5 linked regions of the Homo sapiens genome follow. The protein of the gene in region 1 interacts with the protein of each later gene in a biochemical or structural test. Each region holds a gene or a part of one and is shown in the gene's direction. Other genes may lie near its edges. The genes, in order: MCM5, ORC3, ORC5, MCMBP and CDC5L.

The links.
Region 2: the proteins of MCM5 (region 1) and ORC3 interact on a protein array, tested with the Homo sapiens proteins (one large-scale study listed by IntAct).
Region 3: the proteins of MCM5 (region 1) and ORC5 form a complex in vitro, tested with the Homo sapiens proteins (one large-scale study listed by BioGRID and IntAct).
Region 4: the proteins of MCM5 (region 1) and MCMBP form a complex in vitro, tested with the Homo sapiens proteins (2 studies listed by BioGRID).
Region 5: the proteins of MCM5 (region 1) and CDC5L form a complex in vitro, tested with the Homo sapiens proteins (one large-scale study listed by BioGRID).

The regions. Positions count from the first base shown.
Region 1 is NC_000022.11:35,402,875-35,406,653, forward strand, and holds part of MCM5 (DNA replication licensing factor MCM5), read left to right. Parts: intron 1-332; coding exon 333-459; intron 460-539; coding exon 540-668; intron 669-3,678; coding exon 3,679-3,779. UniProt on the Homo sapiens protein: Acts as a component of the MCM2-7 complex (MCM complex) which is the replicative helicase essential for 'once per cell cycle' DNA replication initiation and elongation in eukaryotic cells.
Region 2 is NC_000006.12:87,665,405-87,668,092, forward strand, and holds the end of ORC3 (origin recognition complex subunit 3), read left to right. Parts: intron 1-349; coding exon 350-429; intron 430-1,606; coding exon of another isoform or gene 1,607-1,613; coding exon 1,614-1,719; 3' UTR 1,720-2,047; downstream 2,048-2,688. UniProt on the Homo sapiens protein: Component of the origin recognition complex (ORC) that binds origins of replication. DNA-binding is ATP-dependent. The specific DNA sequences that define origins of replication have not been identified yet.
Region 3 is NC_000007.14:104,197,765-104,201,543, reverse strand, and holds part of ORC5 (origin recognition complex subunit 5), read left to right. Parts: intron 1-585; coding exon 586-786; intron 787-3,744; coding exon 3,745-3,779. UniProt on the Homo sapiens protein: Component of the origin recognition complex (ORC) that binds origins of replication. DNA-binding is ATP-dependent. The specific DNA sequences that define origins of replication have not been identified yet.
Region 4 is NC_000010.11:119,831,824-119,835,054, reverse strand, and holds part of MCMBP (mini-chromosome maintenance complex-binding protein), read left to right. Parts: intron 1-2,954; coding exon 2,955-3,043; intron 3,044-3,231. UniProt on the Homo sapiens protein: Associated component of the MCM complex that acts as a regulator of DNA replication.
Region 5 is NC_000006.12:44,429,171-44,432,949, forward strand, and holds part of CDC5L (cell division cycle 5-like protein), read left to right. Parts: intron 1-542; coding exon 543-740; intron 741-3,779.

The DNA.
Region 1 (3,779 bases):
CAAGAGAAGTTAAAGGCTCTGCGGAGTCCTTCAGTGACAGAACTGGTTTGTTGTTTTGTGCACGCTGGCCTGGGTGTTGAAACATCCTTTGACTGTCTTGTGGACCCCTTCCATGGAGCTTTCTTTAGGGCATGCCTGTGCCAGCAGTGAGTAGCCTCTGCAGGGTTAAATAATGGAATGATCTGGAATTAGATGTGTGTTTGGGAAGAGGAATGGTGAGGTCATGGTGGCTGTGGTGTGGGCAGATTCAGGGGTGCAGGCACACCTCAGCCAGTGTTGGTTTCCTCTTCTTTGCACCCTTCCTGCCCCACCCTGCTATGTGCCCACTCCAGGGATGAACTCAAGCGGCATTACAACCTGGGGGAGTACTGGATTGAGGTGGAGATGGAGGATCTGGCCAGCTTTGATGAGGACCTGGCCGACTACTTGTACAAGCAGCCAGCCGAGCACCTGCAGCTGGTGAGTGGGACCCCATCCCTGAGCTTCCCAGGGCTGCTCTGCCCCAGTTACTAATAGCCTGTGCCCTTCCCTTTCTCCAGCTGGAGGAAGCTGCCAAGGAGGTAGCTGATGAGGTGACCCGGCCCCGGCCTTCTGGGGAGGAGGTGCTCCAGGACATCCAGGTCATGCTCAAGTCGGACGCCAGCCCTTCCAGCATTCGTAGCCTGAAGGTGGGTCGGAGGGCAGTGGCTGCTGCATGGTGCAGAGGGCTTTGGATGCAGCCAGACCTGAGTGCTAGCTGTGTGGCCTTGAGTGAGGCACTTGACCTTTCTGAACCTGTCTCCTCCTGGAGACAAAAGGATCGTTTGTTGTTTTTTGCTTTTTGTTATGAAAAATTACACACCCAAAAGCAGAGAGTAGTATAATGAATCCCATAAAGCTTCACCCAGATTTAATAATTAACATTTTGTGTTGTTTCCTATTTTGTCCTTTTTCTTTTTTGCTAAAGAATTTTAAAGTAAATTCATGCACAGTGGCTCATGCCTCTAATCTTAGCACTTTGGGAGGCCGAGGGAGGAAGATTGCTTGATACCGGGAGTTTGAGACCCTGGCTCTCCAAAAAACAAAACAAAAAAAAAACAAAAAAAACAAAGCTAGGTATGCTGGCATATGCCTATAGTCCAGGCTACTTGGAAGGCTGAAGTGGGAGGATCAAGGGGCCTAGGAATTTGAGGTTACAGTGAGCTCTGATTGTGCCTCTCAGCACTTTAGCCTGGGTGACAGAGCAAGACCCTGTCTCTAAAAATAAAAAATAAATTACAGACATGACACTTTATCCCGAAAAAAAAAAGTTTTCTTACATAGTCTCATTAGCACCTCAACTGAAACATCAAAGATCTCTTAGTATCATTGAATATACAGTCTAGATTCAGATTGACCAAATTACCTCACATGACTCTTACAGCTCGTGTGTCTCAGCCAGGACCAGGCATTGTACTGGATTGTTGTTTAAATCTCTTTTAATCCAGGACAGCTTCCTTTACTCTGGGTGTAAGTTCTTTCACAGATACATTATTGATTTGCTAAAGAAGCAGGAGCCATTATCCTGTAGAATGTGCTGCCTTTTAGATTTATCTGAAGGCCTCCTTGGGGTGGTTACAACATACCCCTTCCCCCCCGTGATTTTTGGAAGCTGGAAGTTAGATGCAAAGGCCTGACTGTGTTTCGATTTCACATACCGGGCAAGAACGCTTATGGGTGGTATTGGATCCCTCATTGCATCCCTCCATCCACTATGCTGAGACTGACCAGGTGCTAGGTTGAGGTGGTGATGGTCACTTTATTGTAATGATGCAGGCATGGAGTCTTGAATTCCGCCTCCCCAGCCTCGCTTCTGCTTCCCACAGCCTCTTCCTGCTTTCTTTGAGAGCCCCAGCAAAACTTCTGCTCATGTCTGGTTCTCTCGTTCAGCCGGAGGAGGGCATTGAGAAACGGAGACAAGGTGGAGAGAGATTGTCCCAGTCCTGTACACTAGTGGCTCAGGAGCTTTGTGAAGGGCAAGGGCTGGCCATAGGAAGGAGTGGATCGGCTGAGAATTTATGTTTTACTTTTTATTATGGATAATTCAAACATTAGAATATAAAGAGAATCGTATAACGAATCCTCTTGTACTCATCACCCAGCTTAATAATTAGCAACTAGAGGCCAATTTTTTTTTTTTTTTTTTTTTGAGATGGAGTTTTTGCTCTTGTTGCCCAGGCTGGAGTGCAGTGGCACGATCTCAGCTCACTGCAACTTCCGCCTCATGGGTTCAAGTGATTCTCCTGCCTCAGCCCCCCAAGTGGTTGGAATTACAGGCACACACCACCACGCCCGGCTAATTTTTAGTAGAGATGGGGTTTCACCATGTTGGCCAGGCTGGTCTCGAACTCCTGACCTCAGGTGATCCATAGATGCCAAATCTTGTTTCATCTGTGGCCCTGGAGTTCTTTTGAAACAAGTCCCATACATCATATAATTTGATCTGGAACTATTTCTCCATGTATCTCTAAAAGATGAATCTCTTTTTTTTTGAGACGGAGTTTGACTCTGTCGCCCAGGATGGAGTGCAGTGGCATGATCTCAGCTCACTGTAACCCCTGCTTCCCCGGTTCAAGCAATTCTCCGGCCTCAGCCTCCCGAGTAGCTGGGATTACAGGCATATGCCATCACACCTGGCTAATTTTTGTATTTTTAGTAGAGACGGGGATTCACCATGTTGGCCAGGCTGGTCTCGAACTCCCGATCTCAAGTGATCCGTCCGCCTCGGCCTTCCAAAGTGTCGGTATTACAGGCGTGATCCACTGCACCCAGCCTTTGAAGAGTCATTTTTAAAGGCATAGCTACAATAACATCACACTTAAAAATTAACATTACGGCCGGGCGCGGTGGCTCATGCCTGTAATCCCAGCATTTTGGGAGGCCGAGGCCAGTGAATTGCCTGAGGTCAAGAGTTCGAGACCAGCCTGGCCAACATAGTGAAACCCCGTCTCTACTAAAAATACAAAAAGTTAGCTGGACATGGTGGCAGTTACCTGTAATCCCAGCTACTTGGGAGGCTGAGGCAGGAGAATCGCTTGAACCCGGGAGGCGGAGGTTGCAGTAAGCCGAGATCCTGCCATTGCACTCCAGCCTTGGCGACACAGCAAGACTCTGTCTCAAAAAAAAAAAAAGAAAAAAGAAAAAATATTACTGCCTTATTGTCCGGTGTGGGAATAGTCATTAAGATGGGGAAACTGAGGCTCAAAGAGAAGTGACCCAGACAGAAGACCACACAGCAGGTTTTGACAGAACTTGAACTAGAATGTGGGCCCCTGCCTCCCAGGTTTGTTCTGTGTTGTACTCTACAGGTCCAAGGATGTCGCCATCAGAGCTGGGGTCAGGTCTCTCTCCTGGCACCTGCCACTTTGTAGTGAAATGTGCTTAGTGTATCTCTTGCCCTGCCACCTCCCCCCCCAATTGTGCTGCGAGGTCTTTAAAAGCAGGAGCTGTGCCTGAGGCTCCTCTGAACCCCAGGGTCCAGATAGCCTGGCACTGGGTGGATGCTCTGGAAGCATTTTTTGAGCGGAACAGAAGAGCTGTGGCCCTCCCTGCAGCTCTGTGCCCACCTCCTCCAGGCTCCTGCCCAGGATATTTACTGGCATATCTCAGATGCGTCCTGGCTCCCCTTAACCAACAAGCTTCCCGATGGCTCTATTACAGTCGGACATGATGTCACACCTGGTGAAGATCCCTGGCATCATCATCGCGGCCTCTGCGGTCCGTGCCAAGGCCACCCGCATCTCTATCCAGTGCCGCAGCTG
Region 2 (2,688 bases), on another chromosome or scaffold:
TGTCACCATTAAAAAATATCCATAATTGGCTGCTTCCAAGAAAAATAGATATTTTCCTGGAGTAAGATTAGTAGAGGAAACAGGGCTTTCTTGTTCTTTTACCTTTGACTAGCTTCGTTTCTTTTCTCTGCATACTCTTAGTTCTCTGAAACAAGATTATTCAGGAACCATTACTTTATCTTTTAATATATAAGTGGTTTAAAGTGATCATCAGTGTAGTTTTGACAATCTTAAATTTGATATAATGAAGAATATGTGCCAGCTATCAACAGCCATTAAAAGAAGTATAGTAAAAGATGTTTGGCAACTGTAGACATTTTTATTTTCTTCTGTCTTGTCTATTCAAAAGGCTTTTGCAACAGTTGTGACAGCTGCTGAAAAAATGGATGCAAATTCTGCAACCTCAGAAGAAATGAATGAAATTATCCAGTATCCTTTTAAAACCATTTCTACAATGTCCAACTACACATAAAATATAAGTTTATAATTTCTCCAGGTCTACACTAGATATTTATAAAGGCGTACTCCAAACAACCGTATTACTTGTTAATATTAACCATATGGTGCTAGAATAACTGAAATTTCTGAATCTTTATTTTGAATTTAATCCAAAATGAGACCAAACCTAAAACTTTTGGTATCAAATTTATATCAAGATTATATTTTAAAATTTACCAAAAATGAAACTGCCATTATTGAATTCTCTTTTTTTGGTTTTTGTTTTTTTTGTTTGTTTGTTTGTTTTTGAGACGGAGTCTCGTCTATCGCCCAAGCTGGAGTGCAGTAGTGCGATCTTGGCTGACTGCAACGTCCGCCTCCTGGGTTCAAGCAATTCTCCTGCCTCAGCCTCCCAAGTAGCTGGGATTACAGGTGCCTGCCACCAAGCCCAGCTAATTTTTGTATTTTTAGTAGAGACGGGGTTTCACCATGTTGGCCAGGCTGGTCTCGAACTCCTGACCTTGTGATCCGCCCGCCTTGGCCTCCCAAAGTGCTAGGATTATAGGTGTGAGCCACCTCACCCGGCCTAATTCTTTTTTTTTTTTTTTTTTTTGAGACAGAGTTTTGCTATTGTTGCCCAAGCTGGAGTGCAGTGGCACGATCTCGGCTCACCGCAACCTCCACCTCCCGGGTTCAAGCGATTCTCCTGCCTCAGCTTCCCAAATAGCTGGGATTACAGGCGCCTGCCACCATGCCTGGCTAATTTTTGTATTTTTAGGGGAGATGGGATTTCACCATGTTGGCCAGGCTGGTCTTGAACTCCTGACCTTAGGTGATCTGCCTGCCTCGGCCTCCCAAAGTGCTGGGATTACAGGTGTGAGCCACTGACCTGGTCTGAATTCTCTATTTTTCTAATGTACGTTTAGAAGTGGGGGCGGGGAGCAATTTCCATACTATGTAGAACATTAGATTTAGGAAGCATTAAGTACTTTTCCATTTATGTTTTATTGATAGTGGATTCTAATTAATGTTTTCCAGTAACAGTTATAGTTTAATTTAGGAGTTTATATCTGAACTATCTACTTCATTTTACCAACTAGTATTTTAACATTGAGATTTTAATCCCTTTTTGTCAAAAATACAGCACGGCCAGTTTCCTTAATTAAAGCCTCCAGTGCTCGGTTTATTAGAGCTGTTTCTGAACTAGAACTTTTAGGATTTATAAAACCTACCAAACAGAAGACTGACCATGTGGCAAGACTAACATGGGGAGGCTGCTAGAAAGCAAATAAGCAAAGCCAGAACTATCACATTTAGCTTAAGAGAAAAAGGTGACCAGTCATATTTACATATATTAGAGGAGCCTGTTTTGTTGAGAAGATAAATGTGTAACCCCCATTGATGTTTAACCAGAAAAGTACATTGCTAACCCCAAACAGGCATGTATCAAAACACCTGTGGAGTACTTTAGACTCCAACAAATAATAATGTAACTAAAACTGCTCACACATTTTACTGTACTTTCCAAAGTCATTACTAAATTGTGAGTAAATCATTCTTGAACTTAGAGTATGTAAATGTAATAAATTCCGTTATCCAGGAGTATAAATTATTTGCAGTTGCTTTAGCAATCCTCATTCCTCCTCTCCCAATTCCCTGCATTGGCATTCCTCACTTTAGTGTAGTAGGCAGTAAGTAACATGAATATCTTACAGGTTGTTTCTCCTGGTGACTACATAGGTTCCAAAACTGTCTCTGCCTCTCCATTTCCTGTAGTCTTACAACTTTAAAGAAAAAAAAAAAAGGCCAGGCGTGGTGGCTCACACCTGTAATCCCAGCACTTTGAGAGGCCAAGGCGGGTGGATCACAAGGGCAGGAGATCGAGACCATCCTGGCCAACAAGGTGAAACCCCATCTCTCCTAAGAAATACAAAAAATTAGCCAGGTGTGGTGGCACATGCCTGTAGTCCCAGCTACTCGGGAGCCTGAGGCAGGGGAATTGCTCGAACCCGGGAGGCGGAGGTTGCAGTGAACTGAGATCGGCCACTGCACTCCAGCCTGGGTGACAGAGTGAGACTCCGTGTCAAAAAAAAAAGTCCCAAACTGTTTGGCTTTATTTAGGCAGTAAATATTCTACTTCGGGATGACCTGTCATGGAGCCAGTAAGGCCTCTACAAATCACATCCCAAACAAATACAACTCAGATGAGCAAAGTAAGGCCCAGATGAAATGACATCTCGATCTCTTCTA
Region 3 (3,779 bases), on another chromosome or scaffold:
TGCCTGGCTGATTTCTTTATAAGAATTCTTTATAGGAAAATACAAATTTGCTTTGAATTTCCATAAGAAAGAAATGGCAAGCTGAAAGAAATAATTGAAGTGAGTTTAATGAAGGGACAGTTTTATAATGGAAATTTTATGGGAATCACTAAGGGATGATGGTACACCAGGGCCTTTACCACCTCCAGGCCTGAAGGGACCATAGAAAGGAGCTGTTATTGGAACCAAACAAGAGGTGTAGCCTTAGAAGAGGGGCTGTCCAACTTGATCTTTGGTAGAAGAGTATCCACTGCCAAGCTAGGGCCACTGAGGGGTCATGGTGGGAGTCAAGGAAATCAATATCCAAACTTCTCTCCCACCATTCTCCCTTAGTCTCCTGCTGGTTCTTTCCATTGGCTTCTCCATCCAGAGACAGAAAATAAGAGAGTCCAGGTGATGTAATTCTGTAGCTGTCAGGCTCTTGGGGCATGGGGTGGGTTTGGTGGGATATAGATTTAGAAAGGCAAATGGAGACTATCCAGCACAGCCATTATTGTGTTTGTGTGTTTTCTTCTTTACTTACAGTGTTTTGGTTTTCGTTTTCAGCTCCCACATGTGTTTGTGAATTGTGTTGAATGCTTTACATTGAGGCTGCTTTTGGAACAAATTTTAAACAAATTGAATCATCTTAGTTCTTCAGAGGATGGATGTTCTACTGAAATAACCTGTGAAACATTTAATGACTTTGTTCGCTTGTTTAAACAAGTAACCACAGCTGAAAATCTTAAAGATCAGACTGTATATATTGTAAGTAATTTCATTTGATTAGATCATCTCTTATCTTGAAAACTGATAATTTATTAGATCAATTTTCATATATTTGTTTTGAGTCTCATTATGTACAGTGCTCTGTGCCAGGTGCTTTTAGTATACAGAAATGTATTAAATATATTCCTTATCCAAGGGAAGCTTCATTTAATAGAAAAGGTATGACACATACATACGACTACATGCAGAATGTGATAAGTGATTGTCACCAGATGCAAAATATTGACTGTGTGTGTCCAATACAGCTTCATGAGGTATTAGCATTTGAGACAGACCTAAATGAATCAGAGTATTCTAGGAAGAAATTGAAGTAGAGGAATTTCAGATAGAATTATATAAGTAAAGGCATGCAGCTGAAAATGGAGGCCAGAGAGTACCAAATAGTCTAGTTTTAGTGGGTTATAAAGTATGACGGGAGAAAAAGAAGACTGGAAGATAGGTTGGGCAGATTGTGGAAGGTCTAGAAAACTATACTAAAGCACTTCATTTAATTTCTTAGGGAGTGGATAGGAGATAGTAAAGACTTTAGAGCAACAAATATGCCTGGTTACTCTGAAGACATGTTAAAATGATCATCTTTGGAATTGGATAAGAACTACCCAAGACTGGATAGTTTATAAAGGAAAGAGATTTAATTGACTTACAGTTCAGCGTGGCTGGGGAGGCCTCAGGAAACTTATAATCAGCAGAAGGCAAAGGGGAAGCAAGGCACCTGCTTCACAAAGTAGAAGGAAGGAGAAGCTCCTTATAAAATCGTCAGATCAGATGTGAGCTCACTATCACAAGAACAGCATGGGGGAACCACCCCCAAGATTCATTTACCTCCACCTGGTCTCTCCCTTGACACATGGAGATTATGGAGATTACAAGTTAAGATGAGATTTGGATGGGGACACAAAGCCTGACCACACCATTCCACACTTGGCCTCTCCCAAATCTCATGTCGGTTTCACATTTCAAAGTCAACTGTGGCTTCCCAATAGTCCCCCAAAGTCTTAACTCATTCCAGCTTAATTAGCCCAAAAGTCCAAGTCCAAAGTCTCATCTGAGATAAGGCAAGTCCCTTCCACCTATGAGCCTATAAAATCAAAAGTAAGTTAGTTACTTTCTAGATACAATGGAGATACAGGCAATGGGTAAATACAGCCTTTTCAAATGGGAGAAATTGGCCCAAACAAAGGGGCTGTAGGCCCCAAGAAAGTCTGCAATCCAATAAGGCAGTCATTAAACTTTAAAGTTCCAAAATGATCTCCTTTGACTCCATGCCTCACATCCAGCCCACTGATGCAAGAGTGGGCTCCCACAGCCTCATGCAGCTCGACCTCTGTGGCTCCATGCCTCACATCCAGCCCACTGATGCAAGAGTGGGCTCCCATGGCCTTGTGCAGCTCCACCTCTGTGGCTTTGCGGGGTACAGTTGCCCTCTCTGCTGTTTTCACAGGCTGGCGTTGAGTATCTGTGGCTTTTCCATGCACACAGTGCAAGCTGTTGAATCTGCCATTCTGGGGTCTGGAGGATGGTGGCCCTCTTCTCATAGCTCCACTAGGCAGTGCCCAGTGGGGACTCTGTAGGGGGGGTCCAACCCCACATTCCCCTTCTGTACTGCCCTAGTAGAGGTTCTCCATGAGGGCCCTGCACCTACAGCCAACTTCTGCCTGGACATCCAGGCATTTCTGTACATCCTCTGAAATCTAGGCAGAGGTTCCCAAACGTTAATTCTTGATTGCTGTGCACCTGCAGGCCCCACATGTAAGCCGCCAAGGCTTGGGGCTTGCACTCTCTGAAGCAACAGCCTGAGCTATACGCTGGCCCCTTTTAGCCATGAGTGGGGATGCAGGACACCAAGTTCCGAGACTGCACAAAGCAGCAAGGCCCTGGCCCACAAAACCATTTTTCCCTCTTAGGCCTCTGGGCCTGTAATGGGATGGGCTGCCACGTGAAGACCTTGGAGACATTTTCCCCGTTGTCTTGGCTGTTAACATTTGGCTCCTTGTTACTTATGCACATTTCTGCAGCTGGCTTGAATTTCTCCCCAGAAAATGGGTTTTTTCTTTTCTACCTCATGGTCTGGCCACAGATTTTCCAAAGTTTTATGCTCTGCTTCCCTTTTAAATGTAAGTTCCAGTTTTAGATAATCTCTTTGTGAATGCATATGACTGAATGCTTTCAGAATCAGCCAGGTCACCTGTTGAATGCTTTGCTGCTTAGAAATTTCTTCCACCAGATACCCTAAATCATCTTTCTCAAGTTCAAAGTTCCACAGATCTCTAGGGCAGGGGCAAAATGCCACCCTTCTCTTTGCTAGAGCATAGCAAGAGTCACTTTTATTCCCTGTCCCCAATTAGTTCCTCATGTCCATCTATGACCACCTCAGTCTGTACTTCATTGTCCATATCACTATCAACATTTTGGTCAAAGCCATCTAACAAGTCTCTAGGAAGTTGCAAACTTTCCCATTTCTTCCTGTCTTCTGAGCCCTCCATCCTGTTCCAACCTCTGCCTATTACTCAGTTGCTATAACAGACTACCAAGGACTGGGTAATTTATAAAGAAAAGACATTTATTTCTCACAGTTGTGGAGGTTAGGAAGTCAAAGGTTGAGGTCCCTGCATCTGGCAAGGGCTTTCTTGCTGCCTCCTCTCATGATGAAAGTAGAAGTACAAGAGAGGATGAGAGTGAGAGCAAGAGGTGGCAGAAGTCCCTTTTATAATAAAGCCATTCTCTCAATAACCCACTCCCTTGATAACAATATTAATTCATTCATGAGGACAGAGCCCTTATGACTTAATCATCTTTTATGCAGCTTCTCTTCCCAATACTGCCACACTGGGGATTAAGTTCCAACACATGAACTTTGGGGGACATAGTCAAATCATGTCATTTTGTAAAGGCTTTGTAAATGCATTTCTTTTTGTTTTGTTTTTTTGTTTTTTAAAGGTTCTAGATAAAGCAGAGTATCTAAGAGATATGGA
Region 4 (3,231 bases), on another chromosome or scaffold:
GAAATGGAAAAGACTTCTGTACTATTTTTTCTATTTGCCTATGCAATCACTTTTACCAGCACCCTTTATTTCCTCATGTGGGTTCATGTTACTGTCTAGTATCTTTTCATTTCAGCCTGAAGAACTGTCTTTAGTGTTTCTTGCATGGCAGGTCTACTTGTGCAAATTCTTTTTTTTTTTTTTTTTTTTTTTTGAGACAGGGTCTCGCTGTGTCATCCAGGCTAGAGTGCAGTGTTGTGATCATGGCTCACTGCAGCCTCAACCCCCCCAGGTTCAAGCGATCCTCCCACTTCAGCCTCCTGAGTAGTTGGGACCACAGGCATGTGCCACTGTGCCCAGCTAATTCTTTGTTTTTTGGGTTTTTTTGTTTTGTTTGGGTGTGTGTGTGTGTTTGTGTGTGTGCAGATAGGGGATCTCTTTATGTTGCCCAGGCTAGTCTCGAACTCCTGGGTTCAAGTGATCCTCTCTCCTTAGCCTCCCGAAATTCTGGAATTAGAGGTGTGAGCTACCTCGCCCAGCCCTCTTTTAAGTTTTTGTTTATCTGGGAATGTCTTAATTTCTCCTTAAGGCTAGTTTTGCTGGATGTAGAATTCTTGGTTTATAGTCTTTGTCTCATCATTTCGAATATGTCCTCCCACCACTTTCTGGCCTCTGGTTTCTACTGAGAAGCCAACTAGTTTCTGATAAGGATCCTTTGTACACACTGAGTCATTTTTCTGTCACTGCTTTCAAGATTTTGTGGCTTTTGACAGTTTCGATTATGATGTGTCTATGTGTGGATCTCTGAGTTTATCCTACATGGAGTTTGTTGAGCTTCTTGGAGGTGCAGAATAATTCATATTTTGGGGAAGTTTTCAACAAGTTTGGGAAGGTTTTGGCCATGTTTCTTTCTGCCTCATTTCTCTCTGCTCTCCTTCTGACACTACCACTGTGTATCTGATGTTGCATTTAATGGTATCCCACAGGTCTTCAAGGCTCTGTTCATTTTCCCTCATTCTTCTTTTTTTGTTCTGTTTCTTAGACTAATCTCAGTGAACTTATCTTCAAATTTAGTGATTTTCTTCTGCCTGATCAAATCTGAGCACCTCTAGAGAATTTTTACTATATTTTTCAACTCCAGAATTTTTATTTCCTTCTTCTAAAAAATTATTTCTCTCTTTTTATTGATACTCTCTATTTGGTGATTCTCATATTTTCCTGAAGTTCTTTTTATGTGGTTTCCTTTATTTCTTTGAATGTTTAAAATAGCCAATTTAGAGTCTTTTTGTCTAATGTTTGAGTTTCCTCTGGGACAGTTTTCTACTGACTCCCTTATCCCCAAAGTGTGAGCCATACCTTCTGGTTTCTTTGTACTTTTTTGTTGAAAACCAGACATTTTATTTGGTCAGTGGGGTCTCACTGTATCACCCAGGCTGGAATAGTAAGTAGCACAGCCACAGCTCACTGCAGCCTTAAACTGCTGGGCTCAAGTGATCCTCTTGCCTCAGTAGCTGGGACCATAGGTGTGCACCACCATGCCCAACTAAAGTTTTGTTTTTTTGTTTTTTCTTTTCTTTTTTTTTCTTTCTTTTTTTTTTTGTAGTGATGAGGTCTTGCTTTATTGCCTAGGCTGGTCAACTCCTGGCTTCAAGTAGTCCTCCCACCTTGGCCTCCCAATGTGTTGGGATTACAGGTGTAAGCCACCACATCTAGCCACAACCAGACATTTTAAATTATATAATATGGCAACTCTGCTTTGGAAGTTACTCTGGAAATTAAACCTCCCTAGGGTTTATTGTTGTTGCTGTTTGTTACTGTTGGTAGGTTGTTTAGTAACTTTTTTGACTAATTCTATAAAGTCTGTATCTTTGTCACATGTGGGCACTGAAGTCTCTGCTCTGTTAGTTTTGTGGTTAATGATTGGAAAGAAATTTCCTTAAATGCTGGGTAGTAGTCTCCCAGTCTACGGGTGAATAATAATCATAAATAAAAATAAAAGTTGGGGCAAGCCCTCAGTTCAACACTTAGCCATGCAATTTACAAGCCTTAGCCTTCATTTCCTGCTCGCACAGAGCCTCCAGGTCATGCAGAGGTGGGAGCTATGGTCTCTGAGCATGTCTGCAGCCTTCTGAGTTCCTAGGAGTTACATACTTAAGGTTTTCAGAGCCCTCTACAGACATGTCATTTCCCAGCTAGCTTTTCCATTGAAGGGTTTGGGTTAGTCTGTCTGCCGCAGCTGTTACCCAGTGTCTCAGGTAGCTAAGGTGATTGGTAATTTCTTCCGATTGTTTTTGATAAATGCCCTGGGGAAAGAGGTGGTTCATAGTAGACAGGCTTCCAGTCAGGTTAAATAAAGACAACCTTGCAAATGGGTCCTTCCAGGGAGCCACCAGACAGGTGGTCAGATGACAGTTCTCCGGGAATGGCACTTGGAAGGAGCCCTAGCCCTGTTCTCTCTCCGGTGGCTGCCAGGCTGTTGATTTTTGAAGCTACTAATTATCGCCTGGAGGGGAAGGGGTTGGAATTTAGGAGTAGGACATGTTAAAATGCTGCCAGGCTCAACATTCTTACCAATAATCACCTGGTTTTCTTGCATAAATGCTCTCTGGATTGCTGCAAGTATGGTTTTATTTCTAGTTTTTAAAAAGCTGATTTTGATCAGTGTTAACAGTAGAGACAGTTTTCTGCGGTCCCTTCTCTGCCATTTTCACTAACATCACTCTTCCTTTGTGGAAAAGCATTGTTTCCTATGCCAGTTGCTGATTTATATGTTTGCTTGACCTTAAATGAATCTGAGTTTCATTATTTTATTTTCATCAGCAGCATTATGTATGTATATGCTTTGGTACTTTCACCCATATTGCCTCCTTTGTCTAAGAGGCTGACATGCACCTTACTACATCAGTCAAGGAACCATGTTAATTTTCTTTTCCTTACAAAAATGCACATCATTTACATTTACTCTTTTGATAAAGGCAGTTGAAGATGACTTTGTGGAAATGCGGAAGAACGACCCTCAGAGCATCACTGCTGATGATCTTCACCAGCTGCTCGTGGTGGCTCGGTAAGTGGCGCACGTCCATTATTGCTGTTTCGGTAAGCTTGTGTATATGTCTTCTGAGTTATTCAGCAGTAACTGAGGCAGAATTCTAAAAACGGAAATGAACTTTTCCTTTTAAAAACGCTGTATGAAAGGGCTCATTGAGGGGGAATCGAGTTTGGCTGGTGATCTCTTCAGTGGAACAGGCATGC
Region 5 (3,779 bases), on another chromosome or scaffold:
GCCACTACGTCCTACTAATTTTTACATTTTTAGTAGACACGAGGTTTTGCTGTGTTAACCAGGCTAGTCTTGAACTCCTGGCCTCGTTATCCGCCCACCTCAGCCTCCCGAAGTGCTGGGATCATAGGAGGGAGCCACCGTGCCTGGCCAAATTTCATTAGCTTTTAAATGAGGTTAATATTGGCTAATTTGTAAGGTGATTATGATCTTTGGATATAATGTAGGTAAAACTTTTAAACCTAGTTTCTCACACACACAATAGGTACCTGAGAAATGATAGCTGCTGTTATAGTGAGTGAAAGCAAAGGATGTTTATACTTTTGAGGAAACATGGATGCTTGATTTTTAAAAAGCAGTCTGCATTGACTCAAAGGCTTCTTAAGCTATTTTTCCTAGGTATTGTTATCCACCCTTCCAAAAAACAACCAACCACATCTTGGATTTGACTCAAGGCATGAGGGAAAAAATTAGTCTTCTAAAGCTCTCTGGATATGGCAAGTGTTTGTAGTACTTAAACTTATTGAAATTATTATTGTAAACAGGCCCAGGATGTTTTGGTGCAGGAGATGGAAGTGGTTAAACAAGGAATGAGCCATGGAGAGCTCTCAAGTGAAGCTTATAACCAGGTGTGGGAAGAATGCTACAGTCAAGTTTTATATCTTCCTGGGCAGAGCCGCTACACACGGGCCAATCTGGCTAGTAAAAAGGACAGAATTGAATCACTTGAAAAGAGGCTCGAGGTTGGTATCCTTTTAAAATTTTAATTTTAAATGTACTTTGATTGAGATAATGAACTAAATAATGCCACTGGAGACAATGTCAGAAAAACACACCTGAGGTGCTTATTGCCTTTTTAGTTGTTGGAGAAAACTACACTTAAGTGTTGGATCTTCTTGGCCTTGTTCATTGTTTTTTTTTGTTTGTTTTGTTTTTGTTTTTTTTTTAAAGAATTGTTGGCCTTCATGACTAAAGAGTGCCCTGCAAGTTGACCAGAGGTCAATCAGAACCTTTAGATGTGGGAGCAAGGAGCCAAGAAGCCAATACTAGTCACTCAGAACAGGCAGGTCATTGCTAGCATAGCCTGTTTTCTCTGAAGAGGAATCTCAGCAGTAACGAGGAGTTTTCTTTTTATAACAAAGAGAGTACATTTACAAAACTTAAATACAATTCTGTTCATCCTTGGATTACTGTGAGTTTGAGTTAGGGAGGGCAGAGCTGGATTATCTAGTTAGTGGCTTCCATGATTTTTCATGTCTGTGAAAATGTTGAAAACATACTAGATGCAGTTTCAGGACATGTGGTTTCTTAATATAGTTTGCATATTTTGAATTCCAGAATCTGTGTAGGCATTTTGCCAATGGCATGTAAATTGTGGTTCACAGACCACCAGGCTGCCTTGTGCATTCTTTTTTTTTTTTTTTGAGACCTAGTCTCAGTCTGTTGCCAGGCTGCAGTGCAGTGGTGCAATCTTGGCTCACTCCAACCTCTACCTCCTGGTTTCAAGCGATTCTCCTGCCTCAGCCTCCCTAGTAGCTGGGACTACAGGCACGCCCCACCACGCCCAGTTAATTTTTGTATTTTTAGTAGAGACAGAGTTTCACCATGTTGGCCAGGATGGTCTTGATCTCTTGACCTCGTGATCCACCCATCTCAGCCTCCCAAAGTGCTGGGATTACAGGCGTGAGCCACCATGCCCGGCTATGCCTTGTGCATTTTTAATGGTAATCTTTAGGGGCATTTCTAAGGCCAAGGTGGGATGGGAGAGAAGGGGTACTTCAGGCAGTCATATACAGAAAATCGTCTTGGTTTCCTCTTTTATGTGATTACCAGTTTCTCTTTACAAAAAGTGCATTTGAAAATATTTTTATTTAGGGTTAAAGCCAGAAGTAGTAAAATCACTTGGGGTGGTTGGGGCTGTATGGGGCTGAGGAAATGAGCAGGAAAAAGCAGTATCTTTTAATTTGAGTTATTCTGAGTTTTAATTTAACCATTAAGATCACATATATATAGGTAGCTGATGGTTAATGCCTGTGAACCTCTTTTTTTCTCAGTGAGAAATGACTGGTTCTGAAGTAATTCTCATCTTGGGTAAAATCTTAGTTCAGTGCTGCTAATTATTTGTATTACCAACTTCCAGCAGGGTGTGCTGTTGCTCTGTGTTGTGGTTCAGTGTTAAAGCCAGGGAAAATAGAACATCAGTGGTTAAATTGTAAGTTACATTTTTTTGTTGTGTAGGCTTCATTTCTTATAAATGGTAGTTAGCAGTGTAATTGTGATCTAATATCAGCATCATCACTGATTGAAAAGCTATTTGGAAAGCTTCTTTGTATTATTTATATATAAATACTTAGGTTTCTTACTTAGTATGAAAATCTTCTCATTTGAGGTGGGTAAACTCTTTTTGCCGCAAATGGCAAGAACATTTTGTGCTTTTTTAAATGGTAGAAAATTTTTTTCTCCCTAAATCTCATTTACTTTGTTGAGGTACTAACTTTCATGACAGCAAATAAATGTGTCACACAGTGAGTGGTGCCATAAAGTACAGTAATTTTTATTTCTGTGTTGAATTGGTCTTATGAATTTTAAAGGGAAAAATACAGAAAGAGCCACTCCTGTTCTTTTGGAGATTTATTTGGGTCGTTTATGAGCAACCATTAAAAACATGTGGTTCTCTTTGTTCAGTTCAGTACCAGGAACTGAAATCTTCCGTTGAACTATTTTTGTTGAAGGATTGGTGATTTTGGAGAATATTCATAAAGCAGTCTGAAGTCATTTTTCTTTTCTTGACTCTTGGATAACTTACTTTATTGTTTACCCAGCTAGTTACTTTTAAAGAATACTTAATCAAGTCCTTTAATTTGGTAAACTGTGCTTATTTCAAATGAAAGTTCATGAAATCTTTTAAAAAAAGAAAAGCAGCTCAAAGACTTGAATAAACAAACCCCCATTTTATTTGTATCCATCACTAATTCAGAACTAGGTTTCTTTTAGCTTGTTTTAGTTTTTGAAGACACAGTTCTATTGGTTTGAAATACATAAATATTTTATTTCAATTGTGGTAATTCTTTCATTTCAGTTGATTGCTAAATTATAAACATTATTCAAAGTTTGTTGTGGGGAAGGAACTCCAGTTATATTGTATAAACTAAATGCTATACTTAAATTATCCTTTCCACTCTTAGGTTCAGGAGATAAGCCCTTCTCTGTAAGCACTGTATGCCATGGCTGCCAGTGTGTTTGATTTTTGCTGCCATGAACTTTGGAACCGTGAATCTAAATTATGGCCCTATCACTGCCTATCAAGCAAGATGAAGTCCAGCTTTGTCGTGGCTGGTGTCTCCTGAATGGATTAAAAAAAAAAAATGCCCTGAGGTTTATATTGGAGGTAGTCTTTGAGCCATTCATTACTCATGATTAATATTTGAAACTTAGCACTTAAGTGAAAATCCTTAAGATACTCATTTAAAACTAATAGAACCATCTCAGATTTTATGTAGAATGTGGTAGAGGATGTGTGTGTGCAAGGAGTTTGTTAAATAAATAGAATCAGAATGCAGTTACAGGTCAGAAATAAGTGGAAAAGACTTCTGAATTGTAACCAAGTCCATGTATTTTATTCTGCTTTGGAGGCAGAATTGAGTTTAGAACCTTGCCAGACTTTTGTGTGTAAAATAAGACAGCAAGAGCAAACACAGCAATGACAGTTAATATAAGGAAAGGAAAAGTTATGAGAGCATACCATGCTGTGTCCATTTTTACATGGTGGCAAAAAGCCCAGT